Regions from separate parts of the Homo sapiens genome. Here all the other regions are linked to region 4. Evidence: fine-mapped expression QTL. A gene starts in region 4. Each other region holds a variant in brackets. All regions are shown on one strand. Distances are between the middles of the regions.

Region 1 (8,104 bases), 130 kb before region 4:
TAGGCGTGGGTGACGGGGGCTGTGATGTGGTTCATTCTGGGGAACACTCGGGAGGGGGCGGGGTGGGGGAAGAAGGAGGTGGTTTTGGGGGAAGGCAGTGTGCCCAGTTCGGGCATATTCATTTGAGATACTGGTTTCGTTTGCATTGTGTCACTGAGCATTTACACACATTCTACAGTACAGTGTGTTTTTATCCACATCACACCCTCTTCCCAGCCAAACCCACACAACCGCAGAAAAGGAAGCTGGTTTAAAAACAGCAGGAAGAGGGGTTGATAGATTTGCTATGGGATTTTTGTGGGGTTTTTTTTGTTTTGTTTTGTTTTGGTTTTTTTTTGAGATAGCATCTCTGTTGCCCAGGCTGGAGTACAGTGGTACAATCTGGGCTTACTGCAACCTCCACCTCCTGGGTTCAAGTGATTCTCCTGCCTCAGCCTCCAGAGTAGCTGAGATTACAGGCGTGTGCCACCACGCCTAATTTTTATATTTTTAGTAGAGATGGGGTTTCACTATGTTGGCCAGGCTGGTCTTGAACTCCTGACCTCAGGTGATCCACCTGCCTCAGCTTCCCAAAGTGCTGGGATTACAAGCATCAGCCACCATGCCTGGCCTTTTAGCGAGATTTTTAAGTGGAAATTGAAAGGGGGATTTCATTTGGCACCAGCAAGCTGAGCGTCCATCCGGGTTAGGGGCAGCCCACATGCTGGAGTAAATTGGGCCTGCCCGCAGGCAGTGGGGGGTCATGCATCTCCGTGTCACAGGCTGGAGAACTGGCTCAGCTTGGTGTCTGTTCTTTACTAATGGCTTTCGAAGCTGGTAGCTTGGGAAGGATGTGGGCTTGCAGAGGGTTCACTGCCGTGGGGAAGGGAGTGAGATGTGCTGAGTTCAGGTGGCTCTGAAGGACCCACACGCCTGAGGTCCTTAAAATGTTATTTCTGAGTCAGACTTAGAGCCAGGGGACTTTTGGAACTGATTTTGATCTTTGGCAAAGGTCAGCATTTTCTGTGGTGTAATAATGGAGAAAGTGGTCTCTAATCAGAGCCTCATGGAAACATCAAGTTATCCAGTTGGAGTGGATTTCTCTACTGCAGAGCTTCTTTGAGATTTTTTTTTTTTTTTTTTTTTTTTTTTTTTTGAGATGGAGTTTTGCTCTTGTTGCCCGGGCTGGAGTGCAATGGCACAATCTTGGCTCACTGCAGGCTCCACCTCCTGGGTTCAAGTGATTCTCCTGCCCCAGCCTCCCGAGTAGCTGGGATTACAGGCGTGCACTGTCACACCTGGCTAATTTTTGTATTTTTAGTAGAGACAGGGTTTCACCATGTTGGTCAGGCTGGTCTCAAACTCCTGACCTCAAGTGATCCACCCACCTCAGCCTCCCAAAGTGCTGGGATTATAAGCATGAGGCACTGTGCCCGGCTATTTTTTTTTTTTTTTTTTTGAGAGACAGGCTGGAGTGCAGTGATGCGGTCATAACTCTCTGTAACCTCAAACTCCTGTGGGATCCTCCCACTTCAGCCTCCTGAGTAGCCGGGAGTACAGCCATGTGCCACCATGCCTGGCGAATTTTTTATTTTTTGTAGAGACAAGGGTCTTGCTGTGTTACCCAGGCTGGTCTTGAACTCCTGGGTTCAAGCGATCCTCCCACCTTGGCCTCCCAAAGTGCTGATATCACAGGCATGAGCAGCCACTGTGCCCAACTTCTTTGAACCTTTGATTGCTAATGTACGTGTTGTTTCCGAGAGAGGAATCATAGATACAGCTGTCCGTTTGTACAGTTGTCCAGTATCCATGGAGGTTGGTTCCAGGGCCCCCAATAGATACCAAATCCTTGGATCTTCAACTCCCTGATACAAGATGGTGTAGTATTTGCGTCTAACCTAAGCGTATCGTCTCGTATACTTTATTTATTTGAGACAGAGTCTCACTCTGTTGCCAGGCTGGGGTGCAGTGGCATGATCTCATCTCACTGCAACCTCCACGTCCCAGGATCAAGTGATTCTCCTGCCTCAGCCTCCCGAGTAGCTGGGACTACAGGCATGCACCATCATGCCTGGCTAATTTTTGTGTTTTTCGTGGAGATGGGGTTTCACTCGTTGGCCAGGTTGGTCTCAAGCTCCTCACCTCAGGTGATGCGCCTGCCTCGGCCTCCCAAAGTGATGGGGTTACAGATGTGAGCCACCTCACCTGGCCCCTCTTGTGTATACTTTAAATCATCTCTAGATTATTTATAATACCTAATACAATGTACATGCTATGTAAATAATTGTTATACTGTATCGTTTAGGGAATAATGACAAGAAAAAAAGTCTGTACATGTTCTGTACAGATGCAACCATGAATTATTTTTCTGGATATTTTTCATCCAAGGTTGCTTGAATATATGGATGTGGAACACACAGATTGCATTTGGTTATCTGAACCCCTGAACCCTTTTCTCATAGTGCCTTATGGGGGACTAGTGTTTCTTAGAACACACTTTGGGAAATGTAGAGATAATCCTTGTCTGTGTTTCAAATAAACGAAAGTTTTTTGTTGTTGTTGTTGTTGTTTTGTTTTTTTTTTTTTTTTTTTGAGACGGAGTCTCATTCTGTCGCCCAGGCTGGAGTGCAGTGGCACAATCTCAGCTCACTGCAAGCTCCGCCTCCCAGGTTCATGCCATTCTCCTGCCTCAGCCTCCCAAGTAGCTGGGATTACAGGTGCCCGCCACCATGCCCGGCTAATTTTTTGTATTTTTTAGAAGAGACGAGGTTTCACCGTGTTAGCCAGGATGGTCTCGATCTCCTGACCTCGTGATCCGCCCACCTCAGCCTCCCAAAGTGCTGGGATTACAGGCTTGAGCCACTGCGCCCGGCAAACGAAAGTTTTAATGATAACTTTGGACCTGGAACTCAGGAAGCTCCCATTTAAGTAGGTGTCTTGTTCTCTCTACCCCTCTGCACATACACTGGCTTCATTTCTGGGCATGCAGGGTGGCTCACATGTGTATCCCAACACTTTGGGAGGCTGAGGCAGGAGGATCACTACAGGCCAGGAGTTCGAGGACAGCTTGGGCAACATAGTGAGACCCCATCTCTACAAAAGATAAAAGTATCAAAATTAGCTGAGTATGGTCATGCGCACCTGTAGTCCCAGCTACCTGGGAGGCTGAGGTAGGAGAAGCATTTGAGCCCAGGAAGATAAGACTGCAGC[G/A]AGCTATGATTGAGCCACTTGCACTCCAGCCTGGGTGACAGAGTGAGAGACCCTGTATCTTTAAAAAAAGAAAAGAAAAGAAAAAGATGGGTTGAGCACAGTGGCTCACGCCTGTAATCCTAGCACTTTGGGCAGCCGAGGCAGGTGGATTACTTGAGGTCAGGAGTTCAAGACCAGCCTGGCCAACATGATGAAACCTCCTCTCTCCTCCTCCACCTCCTCCCTCCTCCTCCTCCTCCTCCTCTCTCCTCCTCCTCCTCCTCTCTCCTCCTCTCTCTTCCTCCTCTCTCCTCCTCTCTCTTCCTCCTCCTCTCTCTTCCTCCTCCTCCTCCTTCTCTCTCTCTCTCGATGCTTAAATTCTGGTGGTCTTAAGAGAGCTGTCCCTCTCCATCCTCCTGAGCCCCCAGTACATGCTGGGTTGTTACAGTTCTGGGCCACAGCGTCCTCACTGCAACCTTTGTGCACCTGGCCAAGTGTAAACAGTTGCCACGGAGGGAATGGACACCAGTGCTGAGACCCAGCGCTCTGCACGATGAGGCTCAGTCCTTTCGTCATGACTCGCCCTGTGCCACCCCATGCAAGTTACCGTGTGCCAATCTCTTTCAAAGTCTGGATCTCCGTCACATTCACTGTCCTGGAACTGCCCTTTTACGCTCGTTTGCTGAGCTGTGTTTCAAGAGATAGACATCCCTCTTCCCTGAGGAATATGCTCATAGCTGCCTTTCTCCCTCCACACTTCAGGAACTGGATGCATTTCAGCCATACCCCATTGAAATCGTGCCAGGGAAGGTCTTCGTTGGCAATTTCAGTCAAGCCTGTGACCCCAAGATTCAGAAGGACTTGAAAATCAAAGCCCATGTCAATGTCTCCATGGATACAGGGCCCTTGTAAGTAAAGAGAAACTACTGATTTATATTTCATTTTATTTTTTATATAATATTTAAATTTATTTTATTTATTTTTTTTAATTTTATTATTATTACACTTTACGTTTTAGGGTACATGTGCACAATGGGCAGGTTTGTTACATATGTATACATGTGCCATGTTGGTGTGCTGCACCCATTAACTCGTCATTTAGCATTAGGTATATCTCCTAATGCTATCCCTTCCCTTTAGTTTTTATTTTATTATTATTATTTTTTGAGACGGAGTCTCACTCTGTCACCCAGACTGGAGTGCAGTGGCACAATCTCGGCTCACTGCAAGCTCCGCCTCCTGGGTTCACGCCATTCTCCTGCCTCAGCCTCCCCAGTAGCTGGGACTACAGGCGCCCGCCACCACGCCCAGCTAGTTTTTTGTATTTTTAGTAGAGATGGGGTTTCACCGTGTTAGCCAGGATGGTCTCGATCACCTGACCTTGTGATCATCCCGCCTTGGCCTCCCAAAGTGCTGGGATTACAGGCATGAGCCACCGCGCCTGGCCTATTTTATTATTTTTTGAGATGGGGTCTTGCTCTGTCACCCAGGCTGGAGTGCAGTGGCACAATCTTGGCTCACTGCAACCTCCGCCTCCAGGGTTAAGTGATTCTCCTGCCTCAGCCTCCCCAGTAGCTGGGACTAAAGGTGTGTGCCATCATACCCGGCTAATTTTTGTAGTTTTTAGTAGAGACAGGGTTTCAAAATGTTGCCTGGGCTGGTCTCGAACTCCTGACCTCAAGTGATCTGCCTGCCTTGGCCTCCCAAAGTGCTGGGTTTACAGGTGTGAGCCACCATGCTTGGCCAAGATAGGTACTTAAAAAAATTTTTTTGGCTGGGTGTGGTGGCTCACACCTGTAATCCCAGCACTTTGAGAGGCCAAGGCGGGTACATAAGCTGAGGTTGGGAGTTTGATGACCAGCCTGGCCAAAATGGTGAAACCCCATCTCTACTAAAAATATAAACATTAGCCGGTTGTGGTGGCACATGCCTGTAATCCCAGCTACTTGGGAGGCTGAAGCAGGAGAATCGCTTGAACCTGGGAGGTAGAGGTTGCAGTGAGCCGAGATCGTGCCACTGCACTCCAGCCTGGGCAACAGAGCGGGAATCTGTCTCAAACAAACAAAAAAAAAGACAAGGGTCTCGCTATGTGATCCTCCCATCTCTGTTTCCCAAATTACTGGGCTTATTCATGAGCCACCACACCCAGCCTGGATGTTTTTTTCCAGGAGAGGTTGAGTTACCTGTGCACATTCCCCCTTACACAAGCTCAGCGTCCTCCCTGTGGCCCTTCTGCTGTGATGAAAACCCCACAATGGGGATGCCTGCATTCTGCATTCCACCTGATGACCTGTGTGGTCCTTCCGTGTAGTTTTGCAGGCGATGCTGACAAGCTTCTGCACATCCGGATAGAAGATTCCCCGGAAGCCCAGATTCTTCCCTTCTTACGCCACATGTGTCACTTCATTGGTAAGGAGCGTTCCTTGGCCGGGTAGCAACTGGCCTGTGTCTGGGAAGCAGAGGGGCAGTGGAGCCTCCTTCACAGGCTTATTCTGGACCGTGATTTCCCCATGCTCTAGAGAGAAAGGGCCCAGCTCGGCATATGCTCCATCTGGGTGGGACAAGCTCCAGGACACGTCCAACTTCTGGGGAGCCCTCAGTGAAACGAGCAACCGTGGTGTTTACCTCGGGGGCAGTGGGGCCCAAGGCTCTGGCCCTGGCTAGATGGCTGTGCCCTTCTGGGCTTGTTGTAAAATGAGAGTGATGGCTACCCACAAGTGCACATGCTCATGGAGGCTCTGGGCTGAGCTCTGGGGACCAGTAGTAAATCTATCTCTCTCCATCCCCGCCTTCATCCTTGGTCTGTGGGATGTCGGTGGAATGGAAGGAAGACTACAAAGCTCTTTCAGTTCTGACTTCCAAGATTTTCTTTGTTTTTGTTTGTTGGTTGGTTGGTGGAGTTGGGGTCTTGCTATGTTGCCTAGGCAGGTCTTGAACTCCTGGCCTCAAGCGATCTTCCTACCTCAGCCTCTCAAGGTGCTGGGATTATAGGCATGAGCCACCACACCCAAGTGATGCCCACCAGTTACTTAACTCATCAAGAGTGGATTTTTTACTCATTCCTGGGGCTCCAGATTGCCAGAGGAGAGTAAGATCTGTAGAGAGAGCAGGGCTGAGTCAGGTCAGAGTCCCCACCCCATGCCTGCCTGTCTGGCACCAACAGCTCCTGGCCTGAGCCACTGTACCAGGGGCTGGAGCATGGCATTTTGGCCCAACCATCCCTTATTTTAAATTTTATTTTTCGAGACGGGGTCTGGCTTGTTCACCCAGGCTGGAGTGTAGTGGCACAATCTTGGCTCACTGCAATCTCTACTTCCTGGGCTCAAGCAATCCTCCTACCTCAGCCTCCCAAGTAGCTGGGACTACAGGCATGCACCACCACGTCCAACTAATTTTTGCATTTTTAGTAAAGATGGGGTTTTGCCATGTTGCCCAAACTGGTCTTGAACTCCTGAGCTCAAGCAATCCACCCACCTCAGCCTCCCAAAGTACTGGGATTACAGGCGTGAGCCACCACACCCAGCCCCAACCATCCTTTATTTGCCCAGTAGATGTCAAATGTTGCTCAACCAGGGCCTGAGGCTGAGACTTCCCATGTGTCCCACCTCGAGATGGCAGAGCCTTGTGGCCCAAGGAGGGACCCCATCTAGCCTGCCTCCCTGGGTAGCACTGAGCCAGTCAATAAATTAAACTGCATGCTCAGTTCCTTTATTCAGATGGTGAGGAAGGTGGCCATCGTCATCTCTGCGTCCTTCTTCAGCCCTGGCAGTCTGTGATTTTGCACTTGGTAGGCTTATCTTCAGTTCCTGAGGGTTGCCAGACCAGCCTCGGGTGCCAGCTTAGATTTCCTCTCCCTGGGCAGGACTCACAGCTTCAGGGGTGCTGTGATTAGAGCTGATATTTCTGTGCCAGGCACTGGGCTCAGCACAGAACAAAACCAAACTGTATGAAGTAGGTAGTATACTGTGATCCCGTTTTCCAGATGAGGACACCGTGGCCTCAAGTAACTTACCCTCCAGCCCGGGCAACATTGTGAGACCCCATCTGTACAAAAAAGTTAGCTGGATATGGTGGCACATGCCTGTGGTCCCAGCTACTCAGAAGGCTAAGGCGGAGGGTTACTTGAGCCCAGGAGTTCAAGGTTGCAGTGAGCTGTGATTACACCACTGCGTTCCAGCCTGGGCAACAGAGCAAGACCCAGTCTCTAAAATAAAATAAATAAAAATAGGCTGGGCACAGTGGTTCTTACCTGTCATTCCAGTACTTTGAGAAGCCAAGGTGGGCAGATCACCCGAGGTCAGGAGTTCAAGACCAGCCTGAACAACATAGTGAGACTGCATGTCTATATTGAAAAAAAAAAAAAAAAAAAAAAAATCAGGCGCAGTGGCTCATGCCTATAATCCCAGCACTTTGGGAGGCCAAGGCAGGCAGATCACCTGAGGTCTGGAGTTGGAGACCAGCCTGGCCAACATGGTGAAACCCCATCTCTATTAAAAATACAAAAAATTAGCTGGGCGTGGTGGCAGGTGCTTGTAATCCCAGGTACTCGGGAGGTTAAGCCAGGAGAATCACTTGAACCCAGGAGGCAGAGGTTGCAGTGAACTGAGATTGTGCCACTGCACTCCAGCCTGGGCAACAAGAGTGAAACTCTGTCTCAACAAAGAAAGAAGGAAAGGAGAGAGAGGAGTAGAGAGGAGAAGAAAGGGGAAAGAAGAGAGGAGATGGGGGAAGGAAAGGAAAGGAAGTAACTTGCCCAAGCCCCACGGCCAGTGAGTGGCAGTCAGGATTGGCACTCAGGCTACACTGGCTCTGTCAGCTCCTGACTGTTTTTGGGATGACGATGGTCCTGTCCGCCCCATACTGGGAGGCCAGTTGGTAGCAGAGCTTCCTGGGCTAGAAACCTGGAGTTCAGGAGAAGGTCTTTGCCTGGTGATGC
Region 2 (8,104 bases), 250 kb before region 4:
GAGAGGGATTGCATGGTTGGATGGTCATCGTATGTATACAGTTTTATGAAACCTGTTTTCTCTAGTGTCTGTACTATTTTGCATTCCACTAGGAAGGTATGAGGGTTTTAGTTGCTCTGCATCCCTGCTACCACTTAGTATTGTCAGTATTTATTTTTTTTCTGAGGTGGGGTCTCACTCTGTCACCCATACTGGAGGGCAGTGGTGTGATCTTGGCTTGCTGCAGCTTCCACCTCCCAGGCTCAAGTGATGCTCCCACGTCAGCCTACTGAGTAGCTGGGACCACAACCATGCACCACCATCCCTCCCTAATTTTTTTGTATTTTTTTTTGGTAGAAACAGGGTTTTGCCATGTTTCCCAGTCTGTGTCAGTATTTTCTATTTTAGCCAGTCTAATAGATTTGAGTGATATTTCATGGTGGTTTTAATTTGCATTTCTTTAATGATTGAACAATGTTGAACAACTATTCATATGCTTATTTGCCACCATGTCAGTAACTGCAAGGGACCTGAATTTTGAGTTCTCCCTACTTAAACGTAGCAAGTTAGTCTCCATGGTTTCATGGATATTGGCCCAAGACATGAAACTCCTGGGTTGGAGGCAAAAGGGGAGGACACAGGTCACAGGACATCAGCAGAACCAGCCTCATGTCCACGTGGACTACCTTTGCCCTGTAAGTTCCCTGTGGGCAATGACACAAGTAGGAAATCCAAGCTCAGGGAACTCAGCTCTCATAAGGGGTGGCAAACAAATGTTTCAAACCTTTGATATGAAGGGAGACATTATATTTACTGTACTGGACAGTTAATAAATTGTCTTCTGCTGTGGAAGGAGCTATCATCTTTCTCTTGTAAGGATGTTCAATATACAAACATCTTTGACTGGACAGTATGTAGCAAAGGACTCTCATGGAAATGTGGGACACCGGTGTGTATAACTTCTTTGGTAAAGTGTCTGTTGAGATTTTTTGCTCATTTTTAAATTGGGTGGTTTGTTTTCTGACAGCTGAGTTTTGAGAGTTCTTTATACATTCTGGGTACGTAAGTTCTTTGCCAAATAGGTGATTTGCCATTATTTTCTCTCATTCTGTAGCTTGTCTTTTCTTTTCTTTTTTTTTTTTTTTTTGAGGCAGAGTCTCACTCTGTCATCCAGGCTGGAGTGCAACTTATCTCGGCTCACTGCAAGCTCTGCCTCCTGGGTTTATGCCATTCTCCTGCCTCAGCCTCTCGAGTAGCTGGGACTACAGGCGCCCACCACAATGCCCGGCTAATTTTTTGTTTTTTTAGTAGAGACGGGGTTTCACCGTGTTAGCCAGGATGGTCTTGATCTCCTGACCTCTTGATCCACCCGCCTCAGCCTCCCAAAGTGCTGGGATTACAGGCGTGAGCCACCGCGCCCGGCCGTCTTTTCATTTTCTAAACAGTTATTCCCAGAGCAAAAGTGTTTTGTTGTGTTGCCAAGTTTGGTATACAGGTTCTGTGGGCTGTGGCTTTAATGTCAGTCCATTGTTGGGAGTTTTGTAGTGCTGTTTCCATCTGTTTTGTGTATGTGCTGATCTGATGAGACCTGCATAGTGGTCTCTCCGTTAGTTCCAATTTGGAAACCTTTGGTACTGAATAGCATCAGATCCATGCATATGCAGCCTAGGGGTAAGCCTAGAAATTGCTTTCTTGAGTTCTCCTCAGCAATTTTTCCCACACTTTTTGTTCCCAAAGGGCTCATATTTTCTTTCTTTTGTCCAGAAAACTGTGGATTTAGTTACTCCACTCTGCCATGTCCTTCCACCACTGCCTGCACATTTGAGACCAAGGATAGAGATTGGGAAAAATCCATAGTTCTCCTGACTCAGAGTTTGGCTCCGGCACTCTCATTTCAGCCATAGCTGCAGACAAAGCACACGACTGCTGGGCACTGTGGCTCAAGAGAAGGGGGAGATGGTAAGTGGGGGATCCCCATATTCTCTCTGGCTGTTAAGAGTTTCTTTTCACATGCCTGGAGCCCGAACTAGAGGAGCTTTCTCTGTGCTGTGGGGCCCATTTCCAGGTTGGCTGGTGGTATTGGATGGGAGAAAGTGGTAATCTGTTAGACGGCTGGGTGATACTTTCAATTCTGGTCTTCCCCACTTCTCCATTTTGCTTTTCAGAATCCTCAAAAGTAGTGCACATTGCATACTGTCAGGTTTGATAGCTGGTGACTTTCCATCTGGACTCAGTAGCTTCGAGTTTTAAAAATCCATCATGATTTGACTTCCCACCTAACTTCTTTAGTTTATCTTCTGTCTATACTACATCATTCATATTTTACATTTGCCTTCCTGCTTCTGAGCTTTTTGTGAAAGGCATTCTTCCTGTCCAGAATATCCTTCCTCTTTCTGTCATCTTTCCAAGACCCTTTCAACACAAGGCTCTTTAAGGTCTATCACCAGCATCCCCAAGTGGTCTCTCTGTACTCCCTAGGTCAGAATTTGTATGTGCGTTACTCCCCAACAGTTTCCTAACACTTTCTCTTTTTCCGTGTTTTTCAGTCTGCGTGTACTTTTGGTTATGAGCTTCATGAGGGCAAAGACGTGTTCTATCAGTTGCATCACCAGTGCCATCTAGCTCAGTTCTCTGCACACAGTTGGCACTTAGTAAATGTTTGAGTTAAATTAATGAGACCTCCAAGATATAGGGCCTAATTTTATCTGCACATGTGAGTCCCTTGAATGAATGCTGTAGAGTGCTGCTTTTTTACTGTGCTTGTTTGGCAGTTTGTTATTGTGGAGAAGAATGAGGACCATGTGGTTTCAGTTTGAAAGGAAATTGTTGCGTAGCGATTTACCATGCAGCTGTGAGACTATGAACAAATGACTTTAAATATTATACAGTAGAAAAGAAAATTGACTTTGGAAATTATGGTATTATTTCAATTTTTTTCTCTTCTCTTCTTTCTGGACAAGGCCTCGCTCTGTCACCCAGGCTGGAGTGCAGTGGTGTGATCATAGCTCACTGCAGCCTGCACCTCCTAGAGAGGCGATCCTCCTGTCTCAGCCTCCCGAGTAGCTGGGACTACAGGCATACACCATCACACCTCGCTAGTTTTTGTATTTTTTTGTAGAGATGGGGTCTTGCTGTGTTGCCCAGGCTGGTCCTGAACTCCTAACCTCAAGTGATCCTCCCACCTTGGCCTCCCAAAGTGGCATGAGCCACTGTGCCCATACTGGGTTTGTTTTTTTTTATTTACAGTAGCCGTCCTAATGGGTATGAAGTGATATCTCATTGTGGTTTTGATTTGCATTTCTGTGATGATTAGTGATGTTGAGCATTTTTTCACATGTTTGTCGGCTGTTGGTATATCTTTGGAGAATTGTCTATTGAAGTCCTTTCCCATTTGTTAACCGGATTATTATTATTATTTTTTTGTTATTGACTTGTAGGAGTTCCTTTATATTCTGGATATTAACCCTTTATTAGATATGTGGTTTGCAGATATGTTCTCTCATTCTGTGTGTTGTTCCTTTTTACTCTGTCAGTTGGTTCCTGTGTTGTGCAGACGTTTTAAATCTTGATGTAATTAATGTATTTGTCTGATTTCACTTTTGTTGCCTGTGCTTTTGGTGTCATATCCTAGAAGTCATTGCAAAATCCAGTGTTGGGAAGCTTTTCCCCTAAGTTTTGTAGTTTCCAGCCTTTACGTTTAGGTATTTAATCCAATGTTAGCCCTTTCTTAATGGGTTCTGTGTATTTTCGGCAGGGAATAAGTCTTTAATATGACTGTTTCAGGAATTTACCATAGTTAACTTTT[C/T]TTTTTTCCTTCTTCCTTCCTCCCCTCTTTCCCTCCCTCATTCCCTCCCTCTTTCATTCCCTTCTTCCCTCTCTTACAGCTTGAAGATAATGGAATCACTCACTTTTTGTTCATAATTGGTAAGATTTTAGTTGGTAGAATGATAATTCCTTTTCAACAGAACTTTGTTATTTGTTCATTGGTTAGCAGGAAGAAGATGAGCCTTAAGTCTGAACACTGAGGAATTCATGTGCATCAGTCAGACCTCCTGTGCAAGGAAGGATGTGGTTACTACGGCAACCCTGCCTGGCAGGGTTTCTGCTCCAAGTGCTGGAGGGAAGAGTACCACAAAGCCAGGCAGAAGGAGATTCAGGAGGACTGGGAGCTGGCGGAGCGGTAAAAGGACTTAACTAGGGGTAGTTGAACAGTGACGTGACTGGATACATACTTCTGTCACCGTCCAGATACATTTTTTTAAATTTCTGCTTTGACCTATCAGCAAGTCAGTTTAAAATTAAGGAAAAGGATGTTTTCTCCTCTTCTTCTCAGTCAACCTTTAATGAACAGCTTTCAATAGTTTCTTCATTTTGTGTATGTCTTAACTTCTGATTATATTCTTTGGGTTGTGTTAGTTCTCAAATTTAGACAATAAGCTCCTTGGAGTGGAAGAATGGAGATAGGCATATTTCCCGGTGAAGATTAAATGAGCTAATAAATATGATGTACCCAGTGCAGGGCTTGCAAATGGCACTCATCAAGCATTATTTCCCTTGTTCTTTTAATATATTCAGCGTGGCATGTAGCTCAGTGATAAAACACAGTAGTAGAAATCTGTTGACTTGTATACATAGTCCTTGCATTATAGAAATTTAACTTTTCCTTAAAAATTAGATTAGTCAAAGGCAGTTTATATTATCTGGAAATACAGTGATGTTAAAAATTAAATAATGAGCCAGGCGCAGTGGCTCATGCCTGTAATCCTAGCACTTTGGGAGGCTGAGGCGGGAGGATCACTTGAGGTCAGGAGTTTGAGACCAGCCTGACCAACATGGTGAAACCCCATCTCTACTAAAAATATTTAAAAAGTTAGCCAGGCGTGGTGGTGCGCACTTGTTATCTCAGCTACTCAGGAGACTGAGGCAGGAGAATTGCTTGAACCCAGGTGTTGGAGGTTGCAGTGAGCCGAGATCGTGCCACTGCACTCCAGCCTGGGTGACAGGGTGAGACTCTGTCTCAAAAAAAAAAAAAAAAAATTAAATGATGGGATGGCTAGTGAGCATAGGAACTAATAAAATGCCATGAATAATGTTAATTCTTTGCCAGAGCATTTTGGAAATTCTAAAACTGCTTCAACAGAAGAAAGTCAAATGGAATTCTGCCAAATCTTCTTGGTAGTTTTTTTGTTTTTTTCATCCAGTCAGCCAATATTTGTTGAGTGACTATTTTGCTGGCATCTGTGGTGAACTCAGAGAATTAGAAATTACACATTGCTTTCAGTGACTGTGGTCAATCAAAGAGAAAATTTTAGCCCAGAACATGAATGATCTCCTCAGGGTTTCCACTGCATGCCTGATGCTGTCAGTAGCAGATCCTGTTTCAAAAACAGTAGAGGGCACTAGGCACCAACTGCCTCAGCTTCCTCCCCTTGCCACATAAAAATGTACTAATACCTTTATATTAACTTCTTGTCTGTTCCAGAGAAAGAGGTGTCCTGATTCCATCCTCAGACTTAGCACCTCCACCTGTGATTTTTGTTTCTATTTCTTACTGCTTTTAATTGTGACCCTGCTAAATCTCTTGGAAAGCTTGTAAAAGCAGTGATTGCTGGACCTTACCCTTAGAGTCTCTGATTTTAGTAATTTGGGAGTAAGACTAGAGAATCTGCATTTCTAACAAGTTGCCTGGTGATGCTGCTGCTGCTGTCTGGGGAATCACACTTGGAGAACCACTGTCTTATAGATAGTGCTTGGTTTTTTGTTTTGTTTTGTTTTGAGACAGGGTCTTGCTCTGTCACCCCAGCTGGAGTATAGTGGTGCAGTCTCAACTCACTGCATCCTCTGCTTCCTTGGCTCAAGTGATCCTCCTGCTTCAGCCTCCCAAGTAGCTAGGACTACAGGAGCATGCCACCATGCCCAGCTAATTTTTGTATTTTATGTAGAGACAGGGTTTCACCATGTTGCCTAGGCTGGTCTCAAACTCCTGAGCTCAAGTGATTCAGCCGCCTTGGCCTCCCAGCGTGTTGGGATTAAGGGCGTGAGCCCCCGCACCCGGCCTGTGTTTGTTATTTATTACAGATGGTTCACATGCAGCTAATCCGAAGCCAAATTTATTGCTTTTATTTATTATTCTCCCCATTCTGAACATTTTCCTCCTAACCCTTCTCGTGAGTCAGTTAATGGCGTCATTCTTTACCAAGTTAGCTAAAAAACCTTGGTTTCACTCTTGATTTCTCTTTAACCTCCCTTGGCACCTACAATTTGACCAAGTTCTGTTTGTTCCAACTTAGAAAAGTCTTTTGAATTTTACCTTTTCTACTCCTCTTTTCCAGGTATTTATTTTCTTTTACTTAAACCTTTATAATATACTCTTAATTCCTGTCCATGTCTCTGGTTTCTCTATCCTTCAAGTTGTTCTTACAGCTACCTGCATGATCTTTCTAAAGCACAGATCTGACAACAATAACTTTTTGGATTTACAGTCTTTCTTGCTTCCCCACCGCATGATGAAATCCAGAATAGGCTTAGCAATGGGCTTAGCAATCAAGATTCCCTACCCTCTGGTGCCTTCCTGTGTAGCCAGCATCACAGTTCATCACACGCCAGTGCTCTGGCTACATTCAGCTTGTTGTGAAGCAAACCACAGGCTTGCACATTCGTAGTTCCTTCTTCCTGGAATGTCCTTTCACGTAGAATCCTAATCATCCTTATCAGTCAGGCGTGGTGGTGTGTGCCTGTAGTCCCAATAACTTGGGAGGCTGAGGGATGAGAATTGCTTGAACTTGGAAGGCAGAGGTTGTAGTGAGCTGAGATCGTGCCATTACACTCCAGGCTGGGTGATGGAGTGACACACTGTCTCAAAAAAAAAAAAAAAAAAAAACAGAAACAAAAAAAGGATCCTGTTTGTCCTTTAAGACTCACCCCAAACAGCACCGTTGTAAAGCCTCATCAGACTCCTCCAGCAGATTGCGTTGTTCTTTTCTGTGTTCTCACAGCACTCAATTTTTACTCTCTGATGTAGCAGCTGTCCCATTATATAGCAGTTGTTTACTTACCTTTTTGTTTGTTCCAACCTTGAGCTTGTTAGGGAAAAGGACTAGACTTTCTTTATTTCACTGAGCTTGTTGGGGAAAAGGACTAGACTTGGTTTCTTTCATGTAACCCTAGAGCAGTTGCTGAATGAGCATGAGAAGATCCCATTTGAAATCTGTAGTGCATGAAGAGCAGTCCATCCTGTAGCTATGTGAGACCTCAGACTGATTTTGCATATTTAGTCTCTAGTTCTAAAATCTTTAGATCCTCCTGAATAAATGGAGTAATAACCTTCAGATACAGAGAAATCTTGGAGAATATCTAGATCATTCTAATCCTCTCTTGAATTGCAGACTCCAGTGGGAGGAAGAGGCCTTTGCCAGCAGTCAGAGCAGCCAAGGGGCCCAATCCCTCACATTCTCCAAGTTTGAAGGAAAGAAAACCAACGAGAAGACCCACGAGGTTACCACAGTGAAGAAATCTTCAGTGCGTCTTCCAGGGTCGGATCAAAGAAGGGTAATGTTCTGATACTCTTTTTTTTCTTCTCTGCCTGAGTGAGACACAGAGTAGATCCAAAATGCTTATAGGCTCAGCTTTGTAATTTCTGTCAACTTTTTGAGAACATCAGCTCAGATTTGAGACTGAAATTGGGTTTGAGGGTCAGACAATATATGAAACCCATACTCTCTTTGGTCAAAAGACATTGTGTTTTAGAGAAATTTGTTTACTCTGTAGGAGGAGTCAAGAGAATTGAAATAGGTAGTTTTGTTTATGAAATTCATGCCTATCCAAGTGACTGTCTCTTTGGATGTTTTGTTTTTTGTGCATTTGTGGATCTTGGTTTGTTCTGTGGCATAATACCCTCACTGTTCATAGCTTGTCAGAAATGGTGATTTCTAGGCTTGAAAGTCATCTGAGAGAGAGATTTTCTGCCCGAGAGCTTATTTGAGAGACAGCTTGTGTCTTGGGGAAGTGTATTGAGAGCATATAGGAAAAAGCCCACGTTGGGCTCTTGGGGGGATGAAAGTGAGCCATAGTAGCTGTTTTCCAGTGCATGGGTTTGTATGTAGGTGATCATATTCACCCGGCTTCT
Region 3 (8,104 bases), 430 kb before region 4:
TCTCCTGCCTAGGCCCCCCAAGGTGCTGGGATTACAGGTGTGAGCCCCTGCGCCCAGCCTGCAGTGCCTTTCTATAGTTTCCACTACACATTTACAGATCAGGGACACTTTTTTTTTTTCCTGAAAGTTTTGCTCTGTTGCCCAGGCTGGAGTGCAGTGGCCTGATCTCAGCTCACTGCAACCTCTTGAGTAGCTGGGATTACAGGCGTGCGCCACCACACCCGGCTAATTTTTGTATTTTTAGTAGAGACGGGTTTTGCCATGTTGGCCAGGCTGGTCTTGAATTCCTGACCTCAGCTAATCTGCCCCCTTCAGCCTCCCAAAGTGCTGCGATTACAGGGGTGAGCCACCACGCCCAGCCAGATCAGGGACACTTAGAGCTATGATGCTGTTCACTATCCCCCATGTCTTGATATGCCCTCCAGGCCCCAGGGGAGCTACACTCAGAGGTTCCCCCCATATTCCCTGGGGGGCAATTTCCCTGGGAGGGGCAGTATGGCAGTGGGGCTTAGCCCCCATATCAGGGATTCTGAGCTTTGAGGGCTAGTGCCAGACTGTCTGAGACAAGCCCAGCCTCACCCGCATCCCTCTGCTCTTCTGCTTTCTTCCTCCTCTCCCTCCCCTGCCAACCCGTGACCTCTGGCACTGTTGCAACCCCCCAGGTCCTGGTGTATGCATGTGGGAATGGTGGGGAGGTGTTTGGGGGGGCCAGCCTGACCCCTGCCCTGCCCTGGGCTCTGCCATGGTGGCATAGGGCTTCGGTGGTCTGGGGCTCTGTGCCTGGGCTGGAGGTGGTTTGGGGCTCTGTCCCTGGGCCGGAGCTCCAGTTCCCCCAACCCTCCTGTCCCTTGGTGGCTCTCCTCCATCACCAAGAGGCTCTTGGGACCTAGCTCTGGGGTTCCCTGTCGCCTTTCTGTGGGCAGCTTTTGCTTCTGTCTCCACCCTCTCAACAGAGCAGTCGAAAGCTGCACCTGTCAAATCCTGTTGATTCTATAGTCGGAGTGATGATGGCGCCTGGAAATAATTCACTCCTGGGCAGCCAAGGCCCGGGGCTGCCTGATCTCACAGACTGTGAGGTCAGCAAGCCCTAGACAACACCCGTCCTGGGGGGGAGGGGCAGTTCCAGGCCTGTCCTGCCTTTTTGTTTGTTTGAGACCGAGTCTCACTTTGTTGCCCAGGCTGGAGTGCAGTGGTGCAATCTCAGCTCGCTGCAGCCTCCACCTCCTAGGTTCAGGCAATTCTCCTCTTTCAGAATTTGAGACCAGCATGGCCAACATGGAGGAAGCCTGACTCTACTAAAAATACAAAAATTAGCCAGGCGTGGTGACAGGTGCCTGTAATCCCACTTAGGAGGCTGAGGCCTGAGAATCGCTTGTACCCGGGAGGCGGAGCTTGCAGTGAGCTGAGATCATGCCATTGCACTCCAGCCTGGCTGACAGAGTGAGACTCCATCTAAAAAAAAAAAGAAAAGGCAGGACAGGCCTGGAGAGGCCCAGAATTGCCCCACCACCCCAGAAGCAGCACAAAGACTCCACAAATCTAACACCCAGCAGAGACCCCCAGATCTGGGCCAGCCTGTCCTGTCCTGCCAGCCAGAGCCCACTATGCCCAGAGGTGCTGCCCCAGGCTCACATCATCTGAGCTGAGCCCTAGAGCGTGGGCTGGGACCTGCTCTGACTCCCCACCCTGCTCCAGATGTGGGTCTCTGGACAGGGAACTCGAGGGAGTAGACTGGGCTGGGCGCAGCAGCTCTCCCCTGTAATCCCAGCACTTTGGGAGGTCAACGCAGGAGGATGGCTTGAGCTCAGGAGTTTGAGACCAGCCTGGGCAACATAGCGAGACTCTGTCTACCAAAAAAAAAAAAAAAATCAGCCAGGCTTGTGGCGCGCTCCTGGAGATGCCTTGAGCCTAGGAGTTCCAGGCTGCAACACTTTGGTATGGTGCACCAAGATCCCACTACTGCACGCCAGCCTGTATGACAGTAGGAGACTGTCCCTAAAAAAGAAGCTGGGGCCGGGCGTGGTGGCTCACGCCTGTAATCCCAGCACTTTGGGAGGCTGAGGCGGGCAGATCACCTGAGGTTGGGAGTTCGAGACCCACCTGACCAACATAGAAAAACCCTGTCTCTACTAAAAATACAAAAATTAGCCGGGTAGGGTGGCGCACGCCTATAATCCCAGCTACTCTGGAGGCTGAGGCAGGAGAATCGCTTGAACCTGGGAGGCGGAGGTTGCAGTGAGCCGAGATCACGCCATTGCACTCCAGCCTGGGCAACAAGAGCAAAACTTGGTCTCAAAAAAGCAGCAAGGTGGTGGGGGGTGATATTGGGGGTGGTGTGGACATGCTCCAGGCCCTCGCCTGCAGGGTGCCACCCTTCTTAGGGAACCTGGGAAAGTCAGACTGTGGGCTGAGAAAAGAACATGGGAGTATTTTTTTTTTTTTTTTTTTTTTTTTTTTTTTCTTCTGAGACGGAGTCTTCCTCTGTCGCCCAGGCTGGAGTGCAGTGGCACGATCTCGGCTCACTGCATGCTCCGCCTTGAACATGGGAGTATCTTGCTACAGCCTCAGACTCTGGGTCCCTCAAATATTTGAGGACCTTGGGACTGAGCTCCAAAGCTCCCATCTGTTTTTTGTTTTTTTTTTTTAGATGGAGTTTTGCTCTTGTCCCCCAAGCTGGAGGGCAGTGGCATGGATCTTGGCTCACTGCAACTTCTGCCTCCTGGGTTCAAGCGATTCCCCTGCCTCAGCCTCCTGAGTAGCTGGAATTACAGGCATGCAACACCATGCCCGGCTAATTTTTGTACTTTTAGTAGAGACGGAGTTTCACTGTTGGCCAGGCTGTCTCGAACTCCTGTCCTCAGGTAATCCACCCGCCTCGGCCTCCCAAAGTGCTGGGATTATAGGTGTGAGCCACCGCGCCTGGTCCCCCATCTGCTTTCTACCTCAACTTTCCCTGGGCCTGGTGAGAGGGTGGCAGCTAGGGCAAGGGCAGACAAGAGAGAGGGGAACTGGGCCCTTGGAAGCCTGTCTACACCTGGAGGGAGGCCAGCTGGAAATAAACACAGGCAACAAGAGCTGCTGGCCCAGCCAGCAGCACAGGTCTGAGCCCGTCGGTTGGCCAGGGCTCTGCCCAATCTCCCCACCCCGAGACTCTGCGGGCTCCGTTCTCACCCCATTTCGGCTTGCCAGTTCCCTTGTGACTGCCAACAGGGATGCCCTGGCCTCAGGGAGTGTGGCGGTGACAGAGATCTCAAAGCTTGCCAGGTCCACTGTGGTGTCCTTGGGGTGTGCTGAAGCCGATGCCAAGCTTTTGACATAGTAATCCTCCCATCAGCTCTGAGGTGCAATTACCTCTGTGCCCCTTCACCTGGGACCCAACCTAGGTGCTCCTGAGAACTCAAGCCTCAGGTGCTTCTCTTATTTCCTCCTCCTTCCCCACCTTACAGTTTTAATTGCAATCGTGACCTTGCAATCATGACCTTTTTTTTTTTTCTTTTAAAGATGGGGTCTCACTCTTTCTCTCTGGGCTTTTGGTTGTTTTGAGACAGGATCTTGTTCTGTTGCCCAGGCTGGAGTGCAATGGCACGATGTTAGCTCACTGTACCCTTCACAACTCCTGGGCTCAAGCGATCCTCCTGCCTCAGCCTCCTGAGTAGCTGGGACTACAGGCGTGCAGTACCACCCTGCCTAATTTTTATTTTTTAGAGACAGTCTTACTATGTTGTCCAGGCTGGTCTAGAACTCTTGGCTTCAAGCACTCCTCCTGCTTCAACCCCCCAAAGTGCTGGGATTGTAGGTATGAGCCACTGCGCCCGGCCCTAAGACCTCTGTCTTTATGGATGTGAGTCAGCCTGTGTCCAGCAACCTACACCAGT[G/A]TACCCACATGGCCCAGCACGGGCCTGAGCAAAGATGACTCCTGAAAGCCAGCAAATGGCAGGTGCCTGAGGCTTCCTTCCACAAACACCAGGGCCTGGGCCAGTGACAGGTGGTTGCTTTGAACTTTATTTGAGAAAAACAGAAGATAAATGTATCAAAAGAACACACAGGTGGCGGGGGAGGCACAGCCAGTGGCGGCAGCAGGGGTGGGCATCCGGGCTAAGGCTTTACTTGGCGGCAGTCTCATCGGATTTTGCAGCTTCTGGGCCCCCAAGCTGGGCCCGCGACTCGAAGGTGACTGGGATGGTGATCTCGTTGGACTGCGTGGCTAGCTTGGGCATGGGGGCCTCCACGGTCAGTGTGCCCTCAGGGGACAGGGAGGAGGAAACTTGGGTGGGGTCCACACCGGGGGGCAGCCTGGACGTGCAGAGAGGAAAGGCAAGCGTTACATTACACACCGGGTGGGTCCCTGTGCCCTCTTCCCTGACCCCACCCCCACGCCACCCACCCACCCCGACCTGGCGCCAGGACTCACGTGTATTTCCGCGTGAAGCACCGGGAGATGTAGCCATGCTCGTCCTGCCGCTCCTCGTGCTTGCCTTTGGGGGGAAGAGGGAAATCAGACTGCGGGGGAGGGGACTGCCTTTCGGCCCCGCTAGGCCAGAGGCCCCACCTCCTGCTTGGAAGCAGCCAGGACTGCAGGCTGGTAGGGATTAACAGAGGGGGTTGGGGATGGGGGCGTGCCCGCCGGTCTGGGCTCTCAGAAACTTCCGGAAAGTTCTTCGATTCAGAGTTTTGGGAGGAACGGAGCAGGGCGCGGAGCTGGGGAGTGAGCAGTACGCAGGCGCACTTGGAGCCGCGCACACGCCCACTCAGCGGCTAGAAACTGGCACCGCGCCAGGGAACTCCCCGCTTATCTGGGGATGGGGCTGTGGGTGGGAAGGGGACTCTGTAGAAAAGCGCATTTTCTCTCTTCATCGATGATCTTTAAAAAAATTTTTGTTTGCTTTTTTTTTGTAATGGCGCGGGGTCGGGGCGGGGGGGCGCGTCTCGCTATGTTGCCCAGGCTAGTCTTGAACTCCTGGCCTCAAGCGATCCTCCCGTCTCGGCCTCCCAAAGCGCTGGGATTACAGAGCAGAAAGCGCCCTTAGAAGCGACCCGCACTCCCAATTCCTGAGCAAGGGAATCAGGAGTCCTGTTTTTCCCGGTGCTGGGCCAACGTTTAACTCCCCAGGCCCCCGGGACCCCCGTTTCAACCGCACGCCCCCGGCCCTGCCCGCCCTGCTAGCCTCCTCCTCTCCCCTGCAGGAGCAGGGGGGCTCACCGGTGATCTCCACCACGCCATCCTTGGTCTTGACCGTCAGCTCGTCCGGGGCGAAGTGGTTGACATCCAGGGACACGCGCCAGCGGTCCGCAGTGTGCCGGATCTCCGAGACCCCGCTGCTGAGTTGCCGGCTGAGCGCGCGGCTGTAGGCGGGCGCGGCCACTGCGGGGCTCTCGATGGCGGCGGGGGGCAGGGGGCGCACGTAGCCTGGCCAGCTGCTGCCGCCTAACCACTGCGACCACTCCTCCGGCAGCCGGGGCAGCCCGAAGGCCTGGTCGAAGAGGCGGCTATGCGGGTACCAGTCGCGGAAGGGGTCCCAGCTGGGGCCCCGCAGGAGCGAGAAGGGGACGCGGCGCTCGGTCATGCTGGCTGACTCTGCTCTGGACGTCTGCTCAGAAAAGTGCGGGGCGCTGGGCTCGGCTGCGCTTTTATGCTCCTCCAGTCGGGTATTTTTAGCAGGCGGTGTTTGAGGTCTCTATTAATGGCAATGACCCGTTTGAGGGCCGCCCCTCCCCATGCACTCCTCCCCCAGCGTTCAGGGGCCGTGGGCGGGGCGAAGAGGGTTCAGCCCTCATCTGGAACCTTCTCTCGTTAAGGAAAGCAAATGAATTCGAGAGCGCGACGCTGGAGCCGTGCCACGGCAGGGCACTCGCCGGCCCTGGTGCTTAAGCGTTGCTGGCTGTGGCCCGTGGCCAGGGCCGTCCTTCTGTTAAGGAGGACAGAGCCAGACAGGTTGGGTTGGGGCATACAACTGAGAAGTGGCAGAGGCAGGATTGGAACCACACGCGTGTGAGATAGAATGTGATAAAAGGAGTCTGGTGCTTGAGCCCAGGAGTTGAGGCTGCAGTGAGCTATGATCTCACCACTGCACTCCAGCCTAGGCAACAGATCAAAGTCTTGTCTCTCAAAAAAATTTTAAAAAGGGGCTGGGTGCATGGCTCATGCCTGTAATCTCAGCACTTTGGGAGGCCAAGGCAGAAGGGTCCCTTGAGGCTAGGAGTTTGAGACCAGTCTGGGCAACATAGTGAGACCCTACTTCTACCAAAAAATATTTAAAAATTAGCTGGGCATGGTGGTGCATGCCTGTGGCCCCAGCTACTCCAGAGGCTGAAGCAGGAGGATCCTTTGAACCCCGGTGAGTAGAGGCTGTGGTGAGCTGGATTGCACCACTGCACTTCAGCCTGGGCTACAGAGCAAAACCCTGTCTCAAAATAAGTAAATGAATAAATACAAATACAAAAATAAAGCAGTCTGGGCTGGGCGTGGTGGCTCACGCCTGTAATCCCAGCACTTTGGGAGACCGAGGTGGGAGGATCACCAGAGGTCAGGAGTTTGAGACCAGCCTGGCCAACATGGTGAAACCCCATCTCTACTAAAAATACAAAAATTAGCTGGGTGTGGTGGCGGGCGCCTGTAATCGCAGCTGCTGGGGAGGCTGAGGCAGGAGAATTGCTTGAACCCAGAAGGCAGAGGTTGCAGTGAGCCGAGATCTCACCACTGTACTCCAGCCTGGGTGACAGAGTGAGACTCCATCTCAAAAAAAAAAAAAGAAAAAAGAAAAAAGCAATCTAGTAATCTGGTGTGGTTGTTAGGCGTGTGGACTTTGAAGCCAGACTGCCTGAATTCACATCTTTGTTCCATCACTAAGCAGATGAACTTGTGCAAGTTAGATTCTTTGTGCCTCAGTTTCCCCATCTGGAAAATAGAGATGATAATGATGGTAACAGTCATGCATTGCATAAAGATGTGTAAGTCAGCAAGGGACAGCAAATATGAAGGTGGTCCCATAAAATTATATTACTGGCTGGGTGCAGTGGCTGACATCTGTAATCTTAGCACTTTGGGAGGCTGATGTGGGAGGATTACTTGAAGCCAGAAGGCTGGAACAAGCCTGGGCAACACAGTGAGACCCCATCTCTACTAAAATTCAGAACAAATTAGCCAGGCATGGTGGCGTGGACCTGTAGTCCCAGATACTCAGGAGGCTGAGGTGGGAGGAGCACTTGAGCCAAGGAGGTCGAGGCTGCAGTGAGCCTGATGGTGCCACTGCACTCCAGTCCGCATGACAGAACAAGACCCTGTCTCAAAACAAACAAACAAAAACAATTACCGTGTTTTTACTGTACATCTTCTATGTTTTATTTATTTATTTATTTATTTATTTTGAGATGGAGTCTCCCTCTGTCGCCCAGGCTGGAGTGCAGTGGCCTGATCTAGGCTCACTCCAACCTCTACCTCCCAGGTTCAAGTGATTCTTCTGCCTCAGCCTCCTGAGTAGCTGGGACTACAGGCAAGTGCCGCGACACTGGCTAATTTTTGTATTTTTAGTACAGATGGGGTTTCACCATGTTCGCCAGGCTGGTCTTGAACTCCTGACCTCAAGTAATCCACCCGCCTGGGCCTCCCAAAGTGCTAGGATTACAGGCGTGAGCCACCGCGCCTGGCCATCTTCTATCTTTAGAAACACTAATACTTACCCTCATGTTGCAGCTGCCTTCAATATTTGGTGCAGTCATATGCTGTAGAGGTTTGTAGCCTAGGAGCAGTAGGCTAGACCATATGGCTTAGGTGTGTAGTAGGCTAGACCATCTAGGTTTGTGTAAGTCCACTCTGAGATGTTCCCACAATGATGAAATTGCCTAACAAGGAATTTGTTGAATGTGTCTGTTATTAAGTGACTCATGACTGTAATGGGTTGGCCTGAGGATTTGGTGACCTAATGCAGGTGATGACTTTGGCCCGGAGCCTGGTACATCATAATTATTGTTACCTGCCTGGGATTGAAGAGAGGGAAAAGGAAGGAGAATACATGGGGTTTGGCCATTTTCCCCCTTCCCCTAACAGCGCAGCTGGCCCAGATCAGAACCTCCATGGCACAGTGCTGAGAGGGGCCAGGAGGAAGAT
Region 4 (8,104 bases):
ATGCGTTGTTCTATAGCTCTCTGCTAGGAAGGATACAGGCCAGCCCGATGGACAGCCCGCAGACATTACTGAGGAAAGAGGTCTGGGGAATGAGCCACGAGGCACCCAGCAGGAGCCACGGAACCAGGACTGAGGGCACAACCATGCCAAACACCAGGGCCCGCCTCATCCGAGAACGGACGGTGGTGACTCCCAGCATGGCAAAGGCCACTGGGGTGAAACCTCTGGCATCCTCCACTTCCCCCAGCTTTGACAGTGATGACACAGCCTCGAATGACAGGAAGATGATAGCGGAGAAGATGGCGAAGATCACGGTGAAGAAGCAGTGGCGGACGGTGCCCACGGTTCTCTCGAAATTGCCAGCAAAGCGCCAGATGATGATAGCGCCGCAGAGCAGGGAGATGGGATTCTCGTAGACAAAGATGTAGGTTACCAGCCTGTAAACTGCAGAGGGAGTCGGGTTAGAGGCCTGGCGGCGGGTTGCTCCCAGGAGGGAAGCCAGGTTATAAGCCGCCTAGGAAAGGCAGAGAGCCCCCCTCCGTGACAGAGAAGTGAGAGCCAGTGAGTCGCAGCAGGAGGCAATACAAGCAGTGCGTTCAACAATGAAGGACCCAGAGCCTCAAAGGAGAGGCATGAATATCTAATCCCTACACTTCCCCAGGCCTGGTGCAACTCTTAGCGGTAACTGACTTCCAGAGGGAAAAAAATAATACTTTTCGGTAGAGGGCAGTCTCTGAATTTGTAAAGTGCTTTATAATCCTTTTTCAGGTTTTCATACTGACCTACCTCACTGGGCAGTTTGAGGGTTAATTAAGTGTAACAGCTTCGGGGTGGATTGAGTGGGTGTCACTTAACACTCTGTGTGCCAGTCTCCTCTGCTGTAATCCTGACCCCTCCTTCCATAGTGGCTGTTCAGAGGAAGAAAAAAGGGACCATGAATTATTTTGCAGCTGTAAGAATTATAACACTATCATTAACAATAAAGATTATAGAAATTATAAGTCTCCTCAGAAAGTGCTTATCCGATCTCACAGGTAAACTGATGCTTTATATGTAATAAGACATCAAAGAATCCTCCTTTTCCTTTTTTTAAATTTTTATTTGTAGAGACAAAGTCTTGCTACGTTGCCCAGGCTAGCCTTGAACTCCTGGCCTCCAGTGATCCTCCTGCCTTGAATTCCCAAAGTGCTGAAACTACACATACGAACCATCATTCCTGGCCTTTTATTTTTCTAAAAGCAGTTATCGCCAGGCATGGTGGCTCACACCTGTAATCCCAGCATTTTGGGAGGCTTAGGTGGAAGGATCACTTGAGCCCAGGAGTTCAAGACCAGCCTAGGTAACATAGTGAGACCCCCGTCTTTAAAAAAAATTTAAAAATTAGTCAGGTGTGATGATGTGTACTTGTAGTCCCAGCTACTTGGGAGGCTGAGGCAGGAGGCTCGCTTGATTCCAGGAGTTGAACGCTGCAGTGAGCTATGATTGCATCTCTGCACTCCAGCCTGGGTAAGACGAAGACCCTATCTCTAAAAAAATTTTAGAAGTGGTTATCTCTTAAGTATTTTTATGTCCCTGCATGCCCAAATACGACTAAACTCAAGGAGAGAGACCAAAGAACTGATGGTAATATTGGACTTGGGAGTCTAAAGACTTGGAGTGGAATCTTGGCTCTATTACATCCAGGCTGGCTGAGTTTAATCATGTCACAGGTCCTCTAGGCGTCAGTTTCCTCACTGTAAAGTAACAAGAGTTAGATTGAGGACTTCAAAGGTCCCTTACGTCTCTAACGCTCACATATCCACGAAACCCACACCCAGGGAAGCAGTGAACCCCAGAAAGTGGGAGGTTAAGGTTAGGTTGGCATTTTGCTTCTGTCTGTGAGGTGGTGCTATGTATACCTAGGGTGGGGGGAACAGTTTTAGATTGGAGTGGGGAAGCAGGCTATGGAACCATATACCTCAGTCTGGCCATCACCAGAGGCTTCATTATCTGAAGAGTACTTCATTATTTGTTGAGTATTTCCAAAACTGAAATTCCAAGTATAAACATGAAAAGATTCTAGAAGCAACTGTACATGATTTGGAGATTATCTACCCGAAGGCTCTAGTTCCAAAACATCACAGAATAAAAAAAAAAATATAGATTCCTATCTCAATTGCATGACGCAACAGCTCTGCGATTCTCTGCATGAAACCTCAATCTTATCTAGATAACGGGCCAATAACAGGTCCTACGTCATGGGATCCTTGTGAGGGTTAAACGAAATTAATACATATCAGTGTGTGTGCTTTGCAAAACAGCAGGAGATATGCAAATTTCCTGTGTTCCTCTCGAGAAAATGAGGAAGACACGGAGACTAGGAATGTCTTTCAGGAATGGATGTTTATACTTAATTGGTCTGCAAAATTTCTCTCCCCTAGAGAAAAACAAACACTTCTCTCCAAAGGCAGAAGACACCCTGGTACCCCCATGAGCTGGGAATGGCAGTCAAGATTAAGATACAGATGAAAAAGCAGAAGAAATTCCAAATCTCAAGAGGGCAGGACGTTTATAGGGCTTATAGGGGTTTGTGGATAAAGTCCAATTGTCGTGATGTAGGTGAGAGAAAAACGTTTTTCAGTGGGGCTTAGGCCTAAAGCAGACGTAGGTGTGTATGTGAAATGGGAGGGGGAGACGAAAAATCTTTACCCTTGGAGAGCGAGCATGGATTTGCTAGCGAATGGATTTGGGGCCTTAACCAGTCTGGTGGCGACAGGGAAGGGAACAAATTCGGGTAGGGAAGGGATTACAGTGATGACGAAGATGGGGTCTGCAGACAAAGGTGTGGAACACGGAGAGCAAGAGACGGTGCTGGAGGTCGGTCCTCCGGGGGGCGGGCATGGTGATGAGGACCGAGACAGGGGGAGACTGGCGGTGAGGCCTGAAGGGGCGAGTCCCGGAGGCTAGAGCCCAGGAACCGGCAAAGTCGGAGGACAAGGACTCGCCCCGCGATCCCGGCCCGCCCCTGCTCACCTTGCCAGTTGCGAAGGGCCTCGGACTTCAGCGTGAGGCCCGAGGGCGCCAGGGGCTGCTGCAGCAGGAACAGGCGAGGCCCGGAAACCAGCAGCGAGAGCAGCGCAGTGAAGAAGGTGGCGGATGGCACCTCGGGACACAAGCACCAGCTGCGACACCCGGGCCCCGAGGCCGCCATGGCCGCCGTCGTTCCCGCGCCCCGCCTCGACGCCGGCTGCCGGTCCTCTGCTCCTTCCGCCTCCTCGCGGCAGTTTCCCTTGGCAACAGCAGAGGAGCCGGCCGGAGGCCACGCCTCCCAGAGGCCCCGCCCCATGCCAAGTTGTCCAATCCGGTAGCGCCGATCAGCCCCCCCCCCCCCCCCCCCCGTGCGTGGGAGGCCGGGACGGGGGGAGGGGGGTCGGGGCCACTTCCGGGTAGGAATGTTCCAGCACCGTGTTTGATTCCATCCTACTCGGGCTGGTACTGAAACTGCTCCTATAAACTTTAGGAAATTAATCAGGGAAGAAGGGAGGGGGAAAAACGAAAATAAACGAAGCTTGCAGCACACTCTGCGTTCATCACTAGGTCACCTTGCTCTCCGACCTGCTTGCTCATAGCTCTGTGTATCAGCTATGATAGGTGCCCATCGTCTGTCCTAGAATCACGTAGACCCTGTCACAAGATTACAATTCCCCTTAACTCCATAGATAACAACTTGAACATTATGAAACGTTTTCCCTTGGAGATATTCTTTCAGGTCCCGCATACCAGCATAATTACTGACACCAGTTGTTCTGAAGGAGCCCACAGAAGCAAGACTCAATGGGGACTGCAGTTTCCATATCCTGAGGATTTCAACCCCCTTACCCTGACCAGTCGATGACCCCAATTTTCCAGCCCCTCACCCTTCACAATGCCCTTTAAAATCCCAGCCCGGAACTCCTTGGGGAAGATGGATTTGTTGGTCTCCCTGCGTCTCCTCCTAGGCACCCTGCCATCTTTAAACCCTTTTTCTGCTGATAACCCTGCTTCCTCAGTGTAACTGGTCTGTTATTGCACAGCGGGCCTAGGCACCTGTTGGTCCTGTAATAATACCTCATGATTATTATGCCTTACAGCTCACAGAACTCTTTCATATCACGATCTTCCCATCTGTATTCATCCCTATTACACCAAAGAGGAAACAGGACTAGGGAGGGCCCTGGGTAATTCAGTTACATGGCAAAGACAGAATTAGAACTCAGTTCCTCCTGCTATGGCCCGGAATTGGCCTCCAGTACAGCCAGGGGCAGCTTTATCTTCATATTGAAGAAAAGGGGCAGGAGGCTGGGCACGGTGGCTCACGCCTGCAATCCCAGCACTTTGGGAGGCCGAGGCGGGCGGATCACGAGGTCAAGAATTAGAGACCAGCCTGGCCAACATGGTGAAACCCCGTCTCTAATAAAACTACAAAAATTAACCCGGCATGGTGGCGCGTGCCTGTAATCCCAGCTACTCCGGAGGCTGAGGCAGGAGAATCGCTTGAACCCAGGAGGCGGAGGTTGCAGCAAGCCGAGATCGCACCACTGCGCTCCAGCCTGGGTGACAGAGCAAGACTGTATCTCGGAAAAAAAAAAAAGGAAAAGGGACAGGAAACGGGAGAGGGATTCAATGGAAGGGACTCAAAAGTTAGGGATGTAATAGAACACTCATAACCGAGATCTATTTCAGCACTTTACAGTTTGAAAAGTGCTTTTGCTGGAGAACAGCTGTTTAAGGTAGACCTTCCTTTTTTTTTGACAAGAGTCTCACTCTGTCACCCAGGCTGGAGTGCAGTGGCGTGATCTCTGCTCACTGCCACCTCTGCCACCCAGATGCAAGTGATTCTTGTGCCTCAGCCTCCCGAGTCCCAAGTAGCTGGGACTACAGGTGTGCATCACCACGCCCAGCTAATTTTTGCATTTTTAGTAGATATGGGATTTCACCACATTGGCCAGGCTGGTCTCGAACTCCTGACCTCAGGTGATAAGCCTGCCTTGACCTCTCAAAGTCCTGGAATTACAGACATGAGCCACTGTGCCCAGCAGTACCTTCAAGGGTACTACCTTTTTCGCTTTCTCCAGTGACCCTGCCCAGTACTCCCTCCCCTCACATGGTAGAAGTATTTGGCTCCTTCCCCACACACCCACCCTAGTGTTATCAGCTCCTTGCCCTTGGCTGCAGGCTTTGGTTTGACTCAGCTGTAACTGCTGCCCCCCATAGCTTAGAAGCTCCTGCTGGCTCTGAAGGAAGGAGGCTAAATTTTGGGGCTTGTGTGTCCTGCTTCAGTAGCACAATCATAGCTCACTGCAGCCTTGACCTCCCGGGCTCATGGTATCCTCCTGCCTCAGCCTCCCAAGTAGCTGGAACCACAGGTGCGTGCTACCGCACCTAGCTAGCTGCTTCTTTTTTGTAGAGATGGGATCTTGCTCTGTTGCCCAGGCTGGTCTTGAACTCCTGGGCTTAGGCAATCGTCCCGCCTTGGCCTCCCAAAGTGCTGGGATGACAGGTGTGAGCCACCATGCCTAGCCTGTTGTGTGCTTTTTATGTAGTTACTCATTACATTTTCACAACCCTTGTGAGGCTGGTTCTGTAATTACGCCCGTTTTACAGATGAAGCAATGGAGATACAGAGAAGTTAAGTAACTTAAAATTAGGCAACAAGTCTTCCAGGAATTTTTTTTTTTTTTTTTTGAGACGAAGTCTTGCTCTGTCACCCAGGCTGGAGTGCAGTGCTGTAATGTCTGTTCACTGTAACCTCCTCCTCCCTGGTTCAAGCAGTTCGCTGCCTCAGCCTCCTGAGGCACTTCCCATATTATACTATCATTGCATATTTGTGCCCGTAATTGTGAGCTTACCAAGGGCAGAAGCCATGTCTGATTTATACCTGTGTCTGTATCCACAGCCCTGGCACCTAGCACACAGTGGGGCCACAGAAAATGTTCAATGCAAAGTTATTAGCCCTGATGCCTTTGGGATGTGACCTACTTCCCTTCCTTGTCTCTTGTCCAGAAGCCGAGGGTTCTCACGTAATTGAGACCCCTGGGGACTGTTATAACAACAGCCACCATCCCGAATGCATTTCACACTGAATTTCTGGCAAGAATTTCAAGATATTTTTTGAAGAGGAGACCTGAGGTACACCAGTCTAGGATGGCATGGCCAGTCAGCCCACCTAGCTCTCTGTAGAAAGAGTTTTCTGCATTTGCTGTGCAGAGGGTTTAGGCTCGGAGAGGGCAGTTGCAGGAGATATTCACGTTTCCCTTAAGGGAAACCTAGGATTGCAGGTGTGAGACACTGCACTTTTTTTTTTTTTTTTTGAGACTGAGTTTCGCTTTTGTTCCCCAGGTTGGAGTGCAATGGTGTGATCTTGGCTCACCGCAACCTCCGCCTCCCCGGTTCAAGCGATTCTCCTGACTCAGCGTCCCGAGTAGCTAGGATTACAGGCATGCGCTAGCATGCCCGGTTAATTTTGCATTTTTAGCAGAAACGGGGTTTCACCATGATGGTCAGGCTGGTCTCGAACTCCCGATCTCAGGTGATCCGCCTGAGATCTCAGCCTCCCAAAATGCTGGGATTACAGGCTTGAGCCACCACGCCCAGCCCACTGGGCCTTTTTGTTGTTGTTGTTTGTACAGACAGAGGTCTCACTATGTTGCCCAGGCTGGTCTCAAACTCTTGGGCTCAAGTGATCCTCGTGCCTGGGCCTCCCAAAGTGTTGGGATTCCAGGCATGAGCCAAGCCAAAAACCAGGAGATAAATACCATGTTATACTGGCCATTTCCTTTAATGTTCCCTTAAAGGAGACATTAATGGCTCCTACATTAGCATTTGAGAAGCAGCCAGTGTGGAGCTGGTGGAGCTCAGGCTGGAAGTCAGGAGGAAGCAGGACCTCACCCTGGCTCTTTCACTCGCTGCCTGAGTGATCTTGGGTAAGGGAGCCTCAGTTTCCTCATCTATAAAATGGGAACTAAGTCTTATCTTGCAGGGTTTTGATGAAGAAAACAGATAAGATTGACCGAGGGACGAATAGGATGTGAGGAGGTCACACTGTGAGTTAGTGGAAGAGCTAGGATTTGAACTTGGGTCATTAGATCTCTAAAGTTGTTCTATTTCTTTTTATTTTTTTGAGACAGAGTCTTACTCTGTCGCCCAGGCTGGAGTGCAGTGGCGTGATCTTGGCTCACTGCAACCTCCACCTCCCAGGTTCAAGTGATTCTCCTGCCTTAGCCTCCCCAGTAGCTGGGATTACAGGCACATGCCACCACGCCCTGCTAATTTTTGTATTTTTAGTAGAGACAGGGTTTCGCCATGTTGGCCAGGCTGCTCTCAAACTCCTGGCCTCAAGTGATCCATCTGCCTTGGCCTCCCAAAGTGCTGGGATTATAGGCGTGCGCCACTGCACCTGGCCAAGTTGTTCTATTTCTTTTTTTTTTTTGAGACGGAGTCTCGCTCTGTCGCCCAGGCTGGAGTGCAGTGGTGCGACCTTGGCTCACTACAAACTCTACCTTCCGAGTTCACGCCATTCTCCTGCCTCAGCCTCCCGAGTAGCTGGGACTACAGGCGCCCGCCACCACGTCTGGCTAATTTTTTTGTATTTTCAGTAAAGACGGGGTTTCACCATGTTAGCCAGGATGGTCTCGATCTCCTGACCTCATGATCCACCTGCCTTGGCCTTCCAAAGTGCTGGGATTACAGGCGTGAGCCCCTGTGCCCAGCCAGGTTGTTCTATTTCTACCACTACACACATCTCTACCATGGCAAGTATAACACGGTATTTACTTCCTGGTTTTTGGCCAGTCACAGCAGCTCACGCCTGTCATCCCAGCACTTTGGGAGGCCCAGGCAGGAGGATCACTTGAGCCCAAGAGTTTGAGACCAGCCTGGGCAACATAGTGAGACCCCTGTCTGTACAAACAAACAAACAAACAAACAAACAAACAAAAAAGAAAGGCTGGGTGCAGTGGCTCACACCTGTCATCCCAGCACTTTGGGAGGCCAAAGCAGGAGGATTGCTTGAGCCCACAAGTTAGAGACTAGCCTTTGGACAACATAGTGAGACCCCCATTTCTATTATATTTAAAAAAATATTTTT

Evidence for each region. PIP is the estimated chance that this variant, and not a neighbour inherited with it, causes the effect.
Region 1: its variant is fine-mapped to the expression of RHBDD2 in whole blood (TOPMed, PIP above 0.99).
Region 2: its variant is fine-mapped to the expression of RHBDD2 in whole blood (TOPMed, PIP above 0.99).
Region 3: its variant is fine-mapped to the expression of RHBDD2 in whole blood (TOPMed, PIP above 0.99).

Annotation. Positions count from the first base shown.
Region 1 is chr7:76,001,231-76,009,334 of GRCh38, reverse strand. It overlaps STYXL1 (serine/threonine/tyrosine interacting like 1), which reads left to right. Exons shown (of 9, transcript NM_001317785.2): 6 at 3,931-4,076; 7 at 5,480-5,577. Among named protein-coding and RNA genes, the nearest start is that of TMEM120A, 11 kb to the right of the region's middle. RefSeq lists enhancers at 670-849, 8,030-8,104. The variant G/A (reference allele first, on the strand shown) is at 3,190.
Region 2 is chr7:76,128,043-76,136,146 of GRCh38, reverse strand. No RefSeq gene overlaps it. Among named protein-coding and RNA genes, the nearest start is that of SRRM3, 70 kb to the left of the region's middle. The variant C/T (reference allele first, on the strand shown) is at 3,785.
Region 3 is chr7:76,300,173-76,308,276 of GRCh38, reverse strand. HSPB1 (heat shock protein family B (small) member 1) reads right to left here and starts at 5,604. Exons shown (of 3, transcript NM_001540.5): 1 at 5,201-5,604; 2 at 4,412-4,475; 3 at 3,985-4,293. The coding sequence starts at 5,564. The coding sequence ends at 4,104. The variant G/A (reference allele first, on the strand shown) is at 3,876.
Region 4 is chr7:75,874,169-75,882,272 of GRCh38, reverse strand. RHBDD2 (rhomboid domain containing 2) reads right to left here and starts at 3,239. Exons shown (of 4, transcript NM_001040456.3): 1 at 3,013-3,239; 2 at 37-444. The coding sequence starts at 3,190. RefSeq lists silencers at 2,859-3,038, 3,139-3,388 and an enhancer at 2,935-3,543.